Homo sapiens: one gene and its partners. The protein of the gene in region 3 interacts with the protein of the main gene of each other region in a biochemical or structural test. Each region holds a gene or a part of one and is shown on either strand. Other genes may lie near its edges.

The links.
Region 1: the proteins of ITPR3 (region 3) and TRPC4 form a complex in vitro, tested with the Homo sapiens proteins (one study listed by BioGRID).
Region 2: the proteins of ITPR3 (region 3) and TRPC5 form a complex in vitro, tested with the Homo sapiens proteins (one study listed by BioGRID).
Region 4: the proteins of ITPR3 (region 3) and TRPC3 form a complex in vitro, tested with the Homo sapiens proteins (one study listed by BioGRID).

What each region holds. Positions count from the first base shown.
Region 1 is NC_000013.11:37,862,871-37,867,207, reverse strand, and holds part of TRPC4 (short transient receptor potential channel 4), read left to right. Parts: intron 1-4,337. UniProt on the Homo sapiens protein: Forms a receptor-activated non-selective calcium permeant cation channel. Acts as a cell-cell contact-dependent endothelial calcium entry channel.
Region 2 is NC_000023.11:111,911,569-111,915,905, reverse strand, and holds part of TRPC5 (short transient receptor potential channel 5), read left to right. Parts: intron 1-3,093; coding exon 3,094-3,615; intron 3,616-4,337. UniProt on the Homo sapiens protein: Forms a receptor-activated non-selective calcium permeant cation channel. Mediates calcium-dependent phosphatidylserine externalization and apoptosis in neurons via its association with PLSCR1.
Region 3 is NC_000006.12:33,693,485-33,697,062, forward strand, and holds the end of ITPR3 (inositol 1,4,5-trisphosphate-gated calcium channel ITPR3), read left to right. Parts: intron 1-60; coding exon 61-221; intron 222-1,439; coding exon 1,440-1,601; intron 1,602-2,227; coding exon 2,228-2,296; 3' UTR 2,297-3,078; downstream 3,079-3,578.
Region 4 is NC_000004.12:121,944,724-121,949,060, forward strand, and holds part of TRPC3 (short transient receptor potential channel 3), read right to left. Parts: intron 1-4,337. UniProt on the Homo sapiens protein: Forms a receptor-activated non-selective calcium permeant cation channel.

The DNA of each region.
Region 1 (4,337 bases), on a different chromosome or scaffold from region 3:
ATGAGAAATACTAAGCAGTAGCTAGAACTATAAAATTAGGGACTGAATATTTTATGAAAATATGATTGTTGTATTTTTGAAAATAATGTCAGGTAAAGGGAAAATACAATAAACTATTAAATTTTCCTTTTTCCAAAACCATCATTGCCATATAGCTTATGAAATCAAATTCTAATGTGCACTTTGACTTTAGAAATTGAATTGCCTAGACTCAATTGGAACCAGTGTTATTGACCTCTTTAATGCCTATGGAAACCCCACCATGATTATTTGGTTCTCATTAAAAATGAGGTTGAGGAGACAGCTCAAAATAAAAACTTTGCCTTTTCACCTAATTTATACCCTATACCCGCCCCCCCCCACAAAAAATAAACATTAAAACTGGTTCGACTCAACCCAAATTTAATTGGGAATTTGTTTCTATCTAGTTATAATGAAGAGTTGATTTAGAACTATCTCACTACTCATGTTTTCTATTTCTCACCCTTCCAGAGGCATTGACCCCGCAATATTTTAAGAGATTTGAGAATATTTTGATCAGGGATATAATATCATGGCTGTGTCTTTTTAATCAGCACAAATATAGACCTAATTTTTGAGAACATTAGTATTACCAAAATAACTTTATGATGCAAAAAATGCATTTAGGGAAAGACACCATTTGTTTGGGAAACTGAAAATTAAAGGCATGCGCATTGAAAATGTATTAATTCAAAACCTTGTGGTTTCATGAACTATTTAGCAAATTAAGTGCTGTATTTAAATGTTTAAAAAATATAAGTGACCCTCCTGAAAGTTGTTTAATTTTAATAGAATAAGAAAGAAATAGTTTCAGAACTTGATCTACTATTGTAACTAAACTGTATGTAATATCCTATTAATATTAGTGTATGTTTTATCTCTCTTTTTAAAAATATAGCAGTGTCATAGAATAATGACTTCTTGAGAGACACTAAGTGACACATGGACACAGTGTTACATATAAAATTAGAAATGTTAATTAAAACATTAATTTAAAAATATGCCTTGATAGCTTTATCTAGCACACTGCATTCTTTTTGAGAAATGACAGTGAAATTAAATGAATCAGATATTCATTAATTATATTCTGTCTGTGGTTTGCTGTTAGATTTTGAAATATGTTGAAAAATTACTTCAAGCAAATACTATCAAGAGTTCAAATTTACCTGAAACAGGACCTATTGTGAAAAAAGAAAAGAGGGAAAATGGGCCAATATTTATGAGAATTTAATGTACACTTGGCACTATGTGAGAAACTTTGAAAAAGAAAGCTATTTTTCATTGTTATCTTAACATCTACCTTGAAACTGAAGTATTATCACATTTTAACAACCTGAGAAAGATGAAATTTATGAAAATCACAAAATTGCTTTGTGGGAAGGCAGGATTTGAAGTATATCAAATTTTACTATCAGGTACTACGTCTACCTGATGGTAAAGACTACACTCTTTTTACTTAATTCCTGTGGTTTCTAAAATACAATCAATAATCTTTTAACAAGTTTCATAAATTCATTTTTTCAGCTATTTGTTTCTTGAATTTTAAAAATATTATAACATTGGAATATAAACAACTGTCCCCATCATGGGGATAGAATTTGAAACAATAGTCTGTTAAAGTTCCATCAGTTTTGAAGCAGAGCAAGAGATAAGCTACTTATCTTGAGCAGGATGATCTCAAAATGACTTCCTTTCTTATTCTTAAATATAAATCTAATACATGTAAAAAGAAAAAAAAAGTTTGTTTTTATGAACAAAGTTCAAGATTATAATTTTTTAGAAATACTCATGAGCTTATAATTTATAAATAAAAAGTTATCATGCTAACCTTTTGACCATCTGTAAGCTGGTAATAAAATGTCTTTATTAAAAAAAAGGTCATGCTAGGCCATGTTAGGTTTATACTACATCTTATCAATGTTATGTAAAATTTCTAGACAAGTGTATTTGTTTTAGTTTTCCCTGAAATTTTAATTTTCCAATTATTTTAATGTCCCTTGGTATTTGAGAGGAGCTCTCATTCATGCATCCCAAAAGACATCGATTAGCTGAATTTGTCATGATATTTACTAAACATATATATGCATTTGCGCTGACAGGATTGTGTCCAAAACCTATTGACATTGAGGTTGAAGGAATACTTTCTTTGAATATATGTACTACCATTACAAAAGTTATCACTAAAATCTTATCCATTCAGTAGATATTTGTTGAATATTAGTAAATGAATAATTGAATCAATAGATGAATGGCACATGCGTAAGCTTTTCATTTTTGTTGCATTTCCTGGCAAAGCTCCCTCTGTCTAGAATAACTTCTACCTTTTTGTTTCTGTAAAAATATTCTGCAGGCACTAAAGCCTAGTTAGTGCCTAGTTAGTGCCTAGTTTGTGCCTAGTTAAATCCAATATGACCGTATCCTTGAAAGTTTCCTTCATTTCTCCAGATGTCCCAAGTATAAATACAAGCAAAGAGCTTGTTATATTCTGTCTTGCAGGCTGGCAAAGATCTGTCTCCAGATCTAGACAGTAAACTTTTTAAAGAAAACCGGAGGATTTTCAAAACTGTGTGAGTTTGTAACTGAATTAGAGTGCCATAAATACTATGCTTCATAATTGACATAATTAATGTATTTTATACTTTCATAATATTGTACTTGGCTAAACTTTTAGCATATTTTTATATAATGATGCCAATTGTGATAATGTTGCACTTATACAATATATTGAGTACCATATTATTTCTTATGTTACAAAAATAATTTACCCACCATTATTCAATAAACTTAACTTTCAGTCAGCTACTTACTCTATAATGCTCATTTTTATAGGATTTATATAACCAGTTATTAATGTGTTTCAGTTTAAGTGGTACTGTGCCAGAATTCTTAAAGGAGGGCTTTTGTTCCATTACACTATGAGAGGAGTAGTTAGAGTTGAAAGAGGACAGATACAAGTGTTTCTCAGGAATGCTTACTGAACTAAAGAAAGCCAGAGACTTCTTTGGAGTGATATTTGGAAAGTAAGTTGAGAGTGCATTTCAAAGACTTGACAATACATGATGTTCCATTGTGGGTGGCATGAGGGATTTGTTTTAAATTATTTTCATTCTACTTCATTGACAATAGAGTTTTTACAAATCAGATTATGAAAAGTGTTCAGATACTCTGCCACATTTTTAATGCATTTCATCTCTAAATGATAGTGGAGAAGTAACACAATTTGCATACCGGGATCATAGTTCATAACACATTGTAATTTTTATTTTCACAGAATTAGTATAATAGTGCTGACTATGTGCTTTTTGAATAGATGAGTGAAATAAATGAATGCATAGATGATTGAATTGGTCTGTCATCAGCTGCTATGCTCAACCTCTTTAACACACTGTTCATTCAAGTAGCTGATCATACACCAATATGAATCTCCAAAAACACAATGGAGGGATGAGAGGACAGGCATAGTGTACATGGAGTGAAGAACAGAGAATCTATCATGATTTATGTACAATCATCTCCATCATTTATGACAGCATGAGTTTCTTTTTATGTAAAGATCCCTTTCATTCTAAGGTAAAGTGAAGCTGCATGCCCTGAATCACACTGAGGTCACACTTTAAATGAATGCTCTTTTGTGGTAGTTGCAGTTTGACAAGCAGAGTTGGGTCTTCTTTAATTTTATCTAGAGCCCAATATGTACAGGAATATAATATATATGTGTATACAACATACATATAAGTATATATGTGTAAACACACAAACATATATGTAATAACAGTAAATAACAAGTAATAAAGAGTGGGAGACTGCTTGAGTGTGAGACACAAATTATTATCAAATAGTATAGAGTAACCCATAAAGGACCACAGTATTTGTTTTTGAATATGTCAGTGTCCCTATAAAATGGTTAGATTTGCAATGAATGACTTGGAAGATCATCTTATTTAAAAGTATGTTTGTAAGTAGGCCCCCTAAATCTTTCTATATGATCATGCAGTCATACATCAAATACGTCCTGAGAAAGGCATCATTAGGCAATTTCATCATTGCACGAACATCATGGAGTGTACTTACACAAACCTAGATGGTAGAGCTTACTACATACCTAGGCTATATGGAATAGCCTATTTCTCCTAGGCTACAAACCTGTGTAGCATGCTACTGTAGTGAATACTGTGGGCAATTGTAAATATACAATGGTAGGTATTTGTGTATTTAAACATAGAAAAAGTACAGTAAAAATACAGTATTATAATCTTATGGGCCCACCGTCATGTATATAGTTCATTGTTGCCCAAAATGTTGTTATGTGATGCGTG
Region 2 (4,337 bases), on a different chromosome or scaffold from region 3:
TTGAACTCCTGGGCTCAGATGATCCTCTCACCTCAGCCTCCCAAAGTGTTGGGATTACAGGCATGAGCCACCACGCCTGGCCCAAGAGAGTCAATTCCTTAATGTGAAAACAGGAAATTTAATTTATTTTTGCTGAGTGCCTGCTGTGTGTCTAGCACTGTGCTAGATGCCATAGGGGAAACAAGAGCAGACCAGGACAACTCTGCCTTCAAAGAGCTCATAACCTTATCAAGGAGGCAAAAAGTACGTGTGTGAAGTAATTTGAGAATAATGTAAGACAGCATCAGAAAAGTGATTTTCTTGCATGTAACCTTGTGCCCACAGTATTTGAGCGGGCAGCAAGAGATAAGCTCAAAGTTAAGAGGAGGAGCTATTGAAGAAGCCAGAACTTGCAATGGCCCCTGAGTGGCAGAGAAATGGGGCGAGAGACCATTCCACACAGGGGATCCACAAGGATATACACACAGAAAGCAACCTGTGAGTGACAACACTGATAGGAGGAGAAAAAGCAGTCTGGGCGGGAGGGCAAGGTTGGTCACTGTAGACCAGTTTTCTTTTTAAAAGGTTTCCTCTCTGGTGTTAGGTACTCAGGAAGCCGAATGGAGAATAATAAAGTTCCTTGTTAGACAATATAATCGAGTAGTTTCAGAAAGCATTTCATATTCTAGGCATAGACAACAACAACCTTTTGGCTCTATCATACAAGTGGGGCTAAACACTATTCACGGGTACTGCTGTGTGTATTGGACAGGACTGGCAGCACTGCCTTAGAAGAAAAGAAAGGAAAAGAGTAAGAAAAGTAGAAAGAATAAGGAAGTGGCGGGGAGAGAGAGAGAGAGAGAGAAAGAGAGCGAGGAAAGAGGAATAGCATGGTAGGAAGCAGACCCATACCCATAATCGAACCCAGGGAATCCTGTGCTACAGGTTAGCCTCTCTTCCCTTCTGCTCAACACTTTTAGACCCTGACAGAGATGAGGAATGCCTCTGCCTGGAGAAAGGGCAGATTTCTCATCTGAGCTCGCTTCTTCCTGGGCAGACTGTGACAAATTTCTCACTTCCCCATCTCTCCCAACTCTAGGCTTTATGCTGATAGTGTTTATGTTCATTTCCAGACCCACTCAGACCTACTTCTTCCTTAGCCTGTAAGCTTATGTTAATTTCTGAGATTACTCTTTCCTGTGTCCAATTTACTTTATGAGCCAGTTGCTCACTTCCTGCTGTCTTGTTTGTAGCTGCTCCCTCTAAATGTTTAACAGTGTTTACTCGCTGCTCCATCCTAGCCATTAATGACCATTATGCAGTCATCTTTCAACTATTCAGAGGCTGATGCAAGCACTCAGTGAAGGAAACAGGTTTCTTGCAAACTCCTCCTCCTCCACCTTTCTCCTACTGTATGTTTTCTGGCCACTTCCCTGTTTGAGAATCCTGCGTGCAAGGTGGGAGGGAGGCAATGATGTTGAAAAACAGTTAACTCATCCCTTTGTCAGTTCGCCAGTAACTGTGGGTTGTTGTTTTATTTTTTAAAGGAGTTTTGAGAGTAAAAAGAACCTATTGATTAAAACACGATTTGTCTCTCTGCTTACATTTACAGAGATAAAAAAATCTAAAACAAAACAAAAATCCCATGATTTGTCTATTCGATGAGACTCCCAATTATCCATGGTCTGTCCTACCCAGTTAAAATGAACATTTGGAACTTTTTTTTCCTAAAGTGTAATAAAAATCAATATTTCCCAATTTTCTGGAATCCTAGACATGTTTTGAATACTCGGCTCCACCTCTTAAAGCCTCTGTTGCCTCTGTTGACTATTCCAGCCCTCCCCTTCTCTAGCTCTAGATCCTACCACACTTAAACTCTTCTGTGAGTCTAGCAAGCTGCCTCAGTTTCCCTACTGGACTGAGAAAAGACTGGGTCCCAAAAGAGACTTTTTTTTTTTTTTTTTTTTGAGACTGAGTCTTGCTCTGTTGCCCAGGCTGGAGTGCAGTGGCGTGATCTCGGCTCACTGCCAGCTCTGCCTCCTGGGTTCATGCCATTCTCCTGCCTCAGGCTCCCACGTAGCTGGGACTACAGGCGCCCGCCACCATGCCCGGCTAATTTTTTGTATTTTTAGTAGAGACGGGGTTTCACCGTGTTAGCCAGGATGGTCTCTATCTCTTGACCTCATGATCCGCTCGCCTCGGCCTCCCAAAGTGCTGGGATTACAGGCGTGAGCCACTGTGCCTGGCAAGAGACATTTTAAAGTCGAAAGATTTTTTAATTCATTGATCAGGTTCTGCACACTCACCCGGAAGTGCTCCTGAATACCCAAAGAAGCCCCCATCTTTCACCTATAGCTGCTATTTACACTAAACATTACATCATGGACATAGCAGTTTTATCAATGGTACTGTTGCTATCAGTATCCCCTCCCCAAGCCGAGAAGTCTTCATTTTCAGAGTACTTCTTCCTGACCCTAACGAATCATCTTTACCTTCCTGGGACCTACAGGAAGTTGGACGAACCCTGTCTGGCCTTGGGCTTTGGTCCCCTGAAGTTATATATATAGTCTCTACTGCTCATTTGGAACTGAGCAGATAATACTATGTACTGTTACCAGTTTTATGAAAGTTTGCTCTACCCAAGTAATTCTCCAGGAGGTCAGGAAAAATGTCCTTTACTTCTCTGTATTCTCCAGTATGTCTCAGACAGAAATGGGCATGTTGTCATTGCATAATTGACAATTTGACTCTAGAGCTTGGCTCTAGAGTCTTGCTTGGGTTTGAATCCTGGCTCTGCTGACTAAAAACTTTGTAACCTTAGGTGTGTTCTTTAATCTCCCTCTGTCTCAGCTTCTTCATATGGGAAGAATATTTACCTCACAAGGTTGTTGTGGAGATTAAATGAGTAAAGACATGTAATGTGCTTAGAATAGTGCCTGGCACACAATAAGCATCCCACAAACATTAGCTATAAGGAAGGAGGTTTAGGAGGTCAAAAGAATTGAAACAAGAATGGAGACTCTAATTCCTGAATCGCCAGCATTTTATAGGCCCTATGCTTCTCTCTCCAAACTTTAATCCTGCCCTTCTATTCTTCTCATTTCTTGTACCTAGGTCCCCACTCTGATGATGGACACGCAGTTCTCTGAATTCACACCGGACATCACTCCCATCATGCTGGCTGCCCACACCAACAACTACGAAATCATCAAATTGCTTGTCCAAAAACGGGTCACTATCCCACGGCCCCACCAGATCCGCTGCAACTGTGTGGAGTGTGTGTCTAGTTCAGAGGTAGACAGCCTGCGCCACTCTCGCTCCCGACTGAACATCTATAAGGCTCTGGCAAGCCCCTCACTCATTGCCTTATCAAGTGAGGACCCCATCCTAACTGCCTTCCGTCTGGGCTGGGAGCTCAAGGAGCTCAGCAAGGTGGAGAATGAGTTCAAGGCCGAGTATGAGGAGCTCTCTCAGCAGTGCAAGCTCTTTGCCAAAGACCTGCTGGACCAAGCTCGGAGCTCCAGGGAACTGGAGATCATCCTCAACCATCGAGATGACCACAGTGAAGAGCTTGACCCTCAGAAGTACCATGACCTGGCCAAGTTGAAGGTGGCAATCAAATACCACCAGAAAGAGGTAAGCTGAGCTCATGTCTGCTTTCAGGGAAGCTTAAAGCCTCCAAAGTCTGGAGCAGCAGAGCAAGAATCAGCATTTTTCTACCATTTAGCCCCCTAACAAACAAATGGTTGGGCAGGCCTCACAGCTAGGCCCATTTATCCGAGGCACAGACAACCTTTTTGTATTTTCTTTATGGCCAGATAAGTAACCATCTGATTCTTTGGTGGAAAAGCATTCATGCATTTAACAAATGCTTACTGAGCACTGTTCGGAGTGTTTGCGATACAGAAGACAGACACCGACCCTGCTTTCATGGAGCTTACAAGCTGGTGGTGGATATAGAGTAAATGATCACTTTAATGAATACATAATTACCTACTAAGATATGTACTCTGAAAGAACAGTGCTCTGTGAGAGCACATAACAAAGGATCCTATCCTATATACTGGGGACATAGTGGGCAGTGATTACAGGAGGGTCGCTGCCTGGATGCTGGTAATTGTTGGCACAACTGAATCCCTGGCAGCCCCTTAGCGAGAAGGCTAAAAAACACATTTGAAAGATGAAGTCATACTCAAGGTTTGTAGGTCAATGAAAGGCTGAAGCAGGATCTGCTATGGTATGACCTCCAAAATGTTAGGTTCCACGTCTTTGAGGGAGGTCAGTTCAAGCAGGTCACAGGTGAGGCTTTGATTTCCAGTTAGGGAAGATTTACAATCAAACAGGTGTAGTTCTATGCC
Region 3 (3,578 bases):
GGTGACCCTGCAGTGGCTCTTGAAGGCTGATGGTTTCATTCCCGCCCTCTGCACCCTCAGGTCTGGAGAGGGACAAGTTTGATAACAAGACAGTGTCATTTGAGGAACACATCAAGCTGGAGCACAACATGTGGAACTACTTGTACTTCATTGTGCTGGTCCGCGTGAAGAACAAGACCGACTACACGGGCCCTGAGAGCTACGTGGCCCAGATGATCAAGGTGTGAGCAGGGGCTGTGCCAGGCCTGTGGGCCCAAACCAGCCATTCTAGAGTCATCACTGTGCACCAGAGGCCTCATGGTTTTAGCTTCTGAGTACCCTGGGCCCTGGAGAGGAGTGGCCCTATCTGACTGTTGGCCCTAGGAGGCCAGGCAGAGGGGCTCGGACAGCTGCAGACACTTGTTGAAAGGTCAGCAGGGCGAGGAGCAGCAGCTGGAAGCAGCTCTGGGCTGCACGGAAGCCGCTGCTGCAGAGGGGCCTCCTCACACTTCTGGGTGTCAGGAAAAATCCCACAGCAAACCCATGCGCCCCGAAGAACACGTGTGGTATCCCTGGGCCTGTCGTGCAGTGATGCTGAGGAGGGGTGGAGTTGGGGAGACCCTGCCCGTGGCCAGTGATCTGTGGGCCGCTCTCAGGGAGTGTTTTCTAGCTCGGTGGGAAGGCAGGCTGCTTCCTAAAAAGTCTGAATTAGATGATCCTGGGCTGAAGGGGAGCCTGGAAAAACTTTAAAAATCACTTACAGAAATCAAATGTCATCTGTCCAATTTCTGTAATAATGGAGTGAAGGCAATGAATCATAAAGAAGGAATTATTTATCGTTTAGTCTGTATTTCAAACTGATCTTTGTGTACAGGTTTATCTGTTGGTCTGAGAATTCACAGCTTACTACAAGGAAGCTGAGAATTGCTTGGTGCCCCCTCCCCCCCCGACTCCTCTGTCCTGGGAAACGTGGCTTTGCCTCCCAGACACGTGTCAGATGCCAGCTCTCCTCAGCGGAGCCTCCTGATCCCTCAATTTGCCATCTGTCTGACTCGCGTCTTCCCGGGGCGTGGGGCGTGCTTGTCAGGCAGGCGGGCGGGAGGAAGGAAGGAAGGAGATCCAGGGTCTGTCTGGGTGCAGAGGCCTTCCTCCACCTCTCAGGGGGTGTTATGAGAGTAAACAGATGGTGCTGATACCAGCAAAGGACTCAAACTCAGCTGCCGACGCTGCCTAACGGAAGTCAGCCTGTCTCGGTGGCAGAGGGTTGACAAGAGGGTTGACTGCCAGCTCACTCTGGCCCCGGGGAGGACCAGGTCAATTCAGATTTTCCCATGACACATCCCTGACGAGTAGTTTTGTTAAGGGTGTGGCAGAAGCCTCCCCCCACATTACTGTTTTTCTAAATGAGGCCTTTCTAGGCCGGGCCCACGCCTGCTTAACCCACTGGTGATGTTTTTCAGAACAAGAACCTGGACTGGTTCCCCCGGATGCGGGCCATGTCCCTTGTCAGCAATGAGGGCGAGGGGGAGCAGAATGAGATTCGGATTCTCCAGGACAAGCTCAACTCCACCATGAAGCTGGTGTCCCACCTCACTGCCCAGCTCAACGAGCTCAAGGAGCAGGTGTGCACCCCGCCTGATCCCAGGCCCACCCTGGGTTCTATCCCTGGGCAGTCCCTGCCTGCCTTCATCCTTCCTGACCCACCCTCTTCCCCACTGGCCTCTGGCCCTGGGCCTGGATGAGAAGGCAGGTGCCAAACCCACTCTCCCCTGCATGGCAAGTCAGACTGGGGTTGACAACCCCTGCCTTGGGCCGCTAAAGACAAGGCCAAGTGGAAACTTTAGTACAGGGTGGTGGGGCCCTCTGTCTCTCATCCCCTTCCTCTGACAGCTGCCAGGTAGGTCCTTTGAGGGGATCCCCATCACTGGAGATGGGGGAGTTTAAGGCCCTCTTGCCTAGACATCCTCTTCTGCATCTGGCAGTGCCTGCATGAAGATGAGGCAGCCTCTGTTAGTGGGCTGGTTTCCCAGCTGCATCAAATCCAGGGTTTGTGACACGCTAATTGAGAACAAGGGTTTGGTGCTGACATCGACATCCTTAAAGCACCCCGAGGGGCCCTGGCCCGCCGCCAGTGCCGAATAGCAGCTGGGCCCACAGGGGAAGACGGGTGCCAAGCTCTTCCACAGCACCCATGGAGGGAAGGTGCCAGGCGGCCTGACCAGGCCTGTTGGCATCTGCTTAACCCTAGATGACGGAGCAGCGGAAACGCAGGCAACGCCTAGGCTTTGTGGATGTCCAGAACTGCATTAGCCGCTGAGGAGAGCCACCGAAGGCCCCAACAGGGGATGCTCATCACTGGAGACTGCGACTGGGAAGAACACTGCCCCCTCCCTCGGGTTGGGTGGCCCAGCCAGCTGGCCAGCCTCCACTCCCACTCTGCCAGACACCCTGACACCCACCCAGGCTTTGAAGAGCATGGAGGGGGAGCCTCAGAGCTGACAGTCCTGCTTAGAGCCCTTAAAAAGACTTGAAAGTTCACTGGGACTCAGTTTACCTTAATGCCTTAGCAGAAGATAAATCCTACCTAGAGACCTTTGTTCCTTAAAGCAATAACTGACAACTCTTTGTAGTCCTCCTTGTGGGTAGTTAAGAGTGGGGTCACCCCTTTAACTCCAAGCACTACATTTTGGCGGCTGCCGGCCTCTGGGGGAGGTGGCAGTTATGCTGTTACTAGTGATTTTAGGGCTTTGTTATTTAACTTATTTCAAGGGTGCTGTGCTCAGCCCTGCCCATGGCTGTGCAGCTCCCTCCGTGCCTCAGATCTGCTGTAGCCAGTGCAGACCTCACTGTCGTGTCCATGCCACCCCCGGCATGGCTCCAGGTGGCCTGGTGACTCCATGATGGACGATCTTGCTCCCAGGACCTGCCTCTTCCCAGGCTTCCTGGGGAAGAGTTGTACGCCCAGGCAACAAGGGCTGAGCTGCGCTTGCGTGGCTGTTTCATGACCGCTTGTTTTTCTCCTTTTGGTGTAATGTTTTACAAATCCTTTGGCCTGAGAACTAATATGTTAATTGCCTTAAATAAATTAATAGAAATCTAGTCCGTTAAAAAGGGATGTGTTTCCTGCACTCCCCCGGGGGCTGTGGGGATTAACAGGACACACTGGCAGAAGACAGGAACAAGAGCCCCTCCCTGCTGGCCTGGCCTCTCAGGCTCTCAGGAGATACGCTGAGTGACATCCTGTCTCAAGGGTCCTCCCCTGAGATTTGCCTACCCAGAACTGCATTTCGGCATAACTGGTTTCTACGGCAGTCCTGTCGATTTTATTTTATGCATTTCAGAACATCCTGAGGAGTCTAGACACAGACGAGGTTAAGAACCCACTTCCACTTTGTACCCACCAGGGCCGCTGTGGGCCCAGCCCTGTCCCTCACGGTTCCAGAGAGAAGGATGCTCAATATCAGTAAGAGCCAAGGTTCCATGGAATAATGAGGTGACCCTGTGTGTGTCCTCAGCCAGCAGGGCCTCTGACTTGTGGCCACCTACAGAACCTGCCCACAGTGCTGAAGCCAACTGCAGCTGAGGCCCCGCTTGGCCAA
Region 4 (4,337 bases), on a different chromosome or scaffold from region 3:
TTAGCTTACCAACTTTCTCAAGTTGATTTGCCATCAGCAGCCAAATTTAAATGAATTAATTGGATTTCATAAATAAATTAATACTAATTAATAGTTTCCTGTATTGCTCCTCCCAAGAGTAAATGCATTTTAAAATTTCTTTGAGGAAGAGAGAAATGCTTAACCACAGGAGGCCACAGTGCGAACAGCACAGTCCCAGAAAGCTGGGGATTTCAGATGGCCTGGGGCTGCTGTGAATTAGATGTCAATCTGCAGCTTCAGTTTCTTAATTTGTAAAATAAGAGACTGGACTAGATGAAATCCTTTCAAATTCAAACATTCTATTATTCTTCAAAATATTCTATATTGTTAAATTTCAGAAGTGTGGTACTAAGATGATTTTAGGTGGGGAATTCAGATGACCTTCTTATCACACAGTGTAAGTTACTATCTACTCCATGTGCTTAATAAGATCAGTTACGAGTAAGAATGTTCTTCCTTCTGCCATTCTTGGTTACGTTAAATAATATTGCCAATGTTAGGGCTTAAATAAACACAACACACAATCATAGGAGTGTATCATAGGGATGTTCAGTCTCAAGATGGTGGAATAAAGGCCTTTCTCATCCCTTCTCCTTTTCAAAATTACCTCCCTAAACAAGGAGAACAAGGAATTGCAACACAAATTTCATCTTCCATGAAACCAAGAGACATTTGTAACTCCAAGCTACAATATATAACGGTGGAAAGGAGATGAGTTGTTAAAATAGTAAATCATTTAGTGGAGAGAAAGAAGTTCCAACTACAGTGGCTGTTACAGAAAACAAGCTGATCCACCCAGCTCAATGCTAGAGAACGCCCAGAAATTGAAAGCAAAAAAAATTCCAGAAAGTAGAGATAAGGCTGGAACCTAAAATGAGGGAATTGGCTATATAAAAAGTGCATAGAAACCCTCCCCCTACATCCCCACCTGCTAATTGATATGGTTAAGTGACAACCCTCCTGCACCCCTATGGGAGATAGGATATGGAATCTCTGGAGATACAGAAACAGAAATGCTCTAGACGTGGGGATACCAGGGGGGCAGGAACTAGGAACAGGGGGACTCTTGCCCAGTTCGTCAATACTAACAGCCAGGTTTATTATTTCCTAATCTCTTCTCCCCTGAGAAATATTAGGAAAAAAACCCCTGGATCTCTGAAATAAAGAATGCTATAAAAAAGAATACTCATAAGACAAGAAAGAGCTCTTAGAAATTAAAAATATAATCACTAAAATGGAAATAAATTCAGTGAAAGAGTTGGGAGATAGAGACAAGGAAATAGAAAAAACACAAAAAGCAAGCACTGGAAAACAGAAGAGAAGAGATATAAAAACTAGGGGATCAGTCAGGAGGTCCAACATCCAGACCATAGAAATTCCAGAAAAAGCAAAGAATAAAAATAGTGGTTAGGAAAACTTCCCAGAACTAAAGGACATAATGTCCAGATGGAAAGTGTTACCCAAGTGTCCAGCTCAGGTGATGATGAAAGCATCCATACCAAGGCACATCTTCAGAAGAGAGCTAATGAACAGACAATTCTAAGAGCTTCCTGAAGCGGGGGGAAAAAAAGACCTCATACAAAGAAAGTTAGAGGGCTCTAGAAAGGATAACTTCAGGAAAACACACACAGTTAGACACCGTAGAAGATTTAGCTAAGAAACAAGGACACGATGTGACAAATATTTACTCCAAGAAAAACAATCAATTATCAAAGAAAATAAATGTAGTCATACTATACTACTTGACTTAGCGGTGAACAATGATTACATGGTCATATTAATGAAGAACTTAAATAAGATATTAACCAGAAATTGTGATAAACCATCTTGTGGAAGATAGGGGGAGAATAATAGATACATGTGAACATAAATTCTCACCTGAGACTACTGATAACATCTAAAATATGAATAAAAAGATAGCAGTATATGAAAGAGTTGAAAGTGGAGTAGACAGAAAAGGAGAAGGGACCAGGGAATTGCTGGGGGCTTGCTGTTGTTCGTAGACGTCTTTTAGCACTATCTAACTTTTAAAACTATTTGATATTACATAAAAATAACTTAAACCAACAAAAATGATGACTCATTGTACACAGTGAAATTGCTATATACAACTGATAATATAAAGAAAAGTTTCAGAGTATTAAAGGCCTCAAGGCTGGGTGGTGCAGTGGTTCATGCCTATAATCACAGCAACTTGGGAGGTAGAGGTAGGAGGATTGCTTGAGCTCAGGAGTTAGAGACCAGCCTGGGCAACATAGTGAGACCTCATCGATACAAAAAATTTTACAAGTAGTCAGTTATGGTAGTGTGTGCCTGTAGTCCCAGTTACTTGGGAGGCTAAGATTTGAGGATCACTTGAGCCTAGGAGTTTGAGTCTGCAATGAGCTATGATTGCACCAACTGCACTCCAGCCTAGGTGATAGAGTGAGACTCTGTCTCAAAAAAAAAAAAAAAAAAAGAATTAAAAAAATAAAGTCCTTAAGTCTAATGCCATGCTGTGCTGTTCTTAAAAATTAAACTATAACTGTAAAGAAAGCCGCCTCTTTCTTAATAACACTAGTCAGTCTGGACTCAAAGTCCAGACTCATGTCCCTAAGATTCAACAATCACTTGGAGAATCTGATTCCCTCCAGGGTTGGGAGGGAGGGAAGTCCTGCTTCCAGTCTAATGCCTGAGCCAACACACACGCTAAGCCAAGACTGGAACATTTATACAAGACCAGTGCCACAGAAACTAACATACAAAGTGTTTTAGGTAATCTGAGTTACAAGGCATTGTGGACTCATTTTTGGTTCCTTGATCATATAAAGGTGAGTATCAGAAGATCTATTATTGATTTGCCAGGGAAGCGTTAGAACATTACTTTACATCTCTGTGTACTAATTTCCTCATTTGGTAAGTGATGACAATGATTTAAAAAACTGCTTTAAAGAGGAGCGATTTAAGTGAATGAGTATAAACGACAGCATGAAGTAGTATATAAACACAAATTAACTACTTTTATTAAGACAATTTTTTGGCAGCACTTCCTCTAAAGAAAAACTAAACAGGATTTTTTTTCTAGAAATCTTTCTCTGTTAAAGATAACATTGCTGAAAAATCTAATGATTTTGTGCATGTATGCTAATACGTGCAAGGACTGATTCTTCTAACAGTAGAGTCATAAGTTTTTCTCTTGATCTTTCAGTTTTTGAAGAGTGTGCATCGATGTTATTTCTTGCTGCTTTTTCTCCCTGCCCTCTAAACAAAAGCTTTTTCCCTCAAAATCTAGCTTGGACTCCCTTTGTTTCTCTCTTCACACTCCTTTGAGTAATCTCATGTAGTCACACAACTGTGTAACAATTCCCATCAGACAGCTTTAAACTTGTATTTCCTTTTCCCTGCTTAACATCTCTATCAGAAATATTTGATCATTCACTATTCCTTTAAAAAGAAAAAAAAAAAAAACAAAAAGAGAACTATCTGAAAAATCAGATCCTCACCTTTGCTTTTTTCTTGTCAACAATGGCATCAACCATGTTGGTTATCTGGGTCAAAAATCACTAAATTGTCTCTGATCCTGCTTTCTCTTTAAAGCCATCATGGATAGTGAGTTGCAAAATTCCATAGATTCTAGCTGGTTTTTTTTTTTTTCCCTCAATTTCTCCCCTTTCCATTCCACCAACACTACACTATTACAGAGTCTAATCTCAGCCTGGACAGTTACAGTCATCTCCTAATTTGTCTCTTCACTTTCTATTAATTGCCACTTCAATCCAGAGTGGGTTTGCTCAAATTACTGCTACTTTAAAATAATCAGTGGCTCCCTAGTGCCTCATCCTGGCATATAGGATCCTCCGCACTAATGCCTCAAACCAACATGTCCAGCTAAATCTCACTGCTCCCCTATACATATCTATGTTCCAACCAAACTCAACTAATATTCCTTAAACATGCCTGGCATTTTGGGGAAAGAGAGGGCTTGAATTAAGTATTTACCTTGTCTCTGCTTCTTGTCCTATCTATCCTTCAAGGCCCATAAAGGTTTCCTTGATTTCCCCACAACTTAATGTTGTCCTTCTCTTCTTCGCACTTGACCCTTTATAACTCTTTGCGGTTTTTTTTTTGTTTTTTTGTTTTTGTTGTTGTTGTTTTTTTTTAAAACGGAACTGATTTTACTCTAATTTACAGCATAACTGCTCATGCCCAGTCTCATTCCCACCTCTCCCTCATGAGATTGTAAACTTCTTGAGTACAGGAAAGTTGTCATGCTTATCTTTGTGGCTTGCAGTACCTAGCCTACACTTTGCAAATATGCACGCTTGAGAAACGCTTGA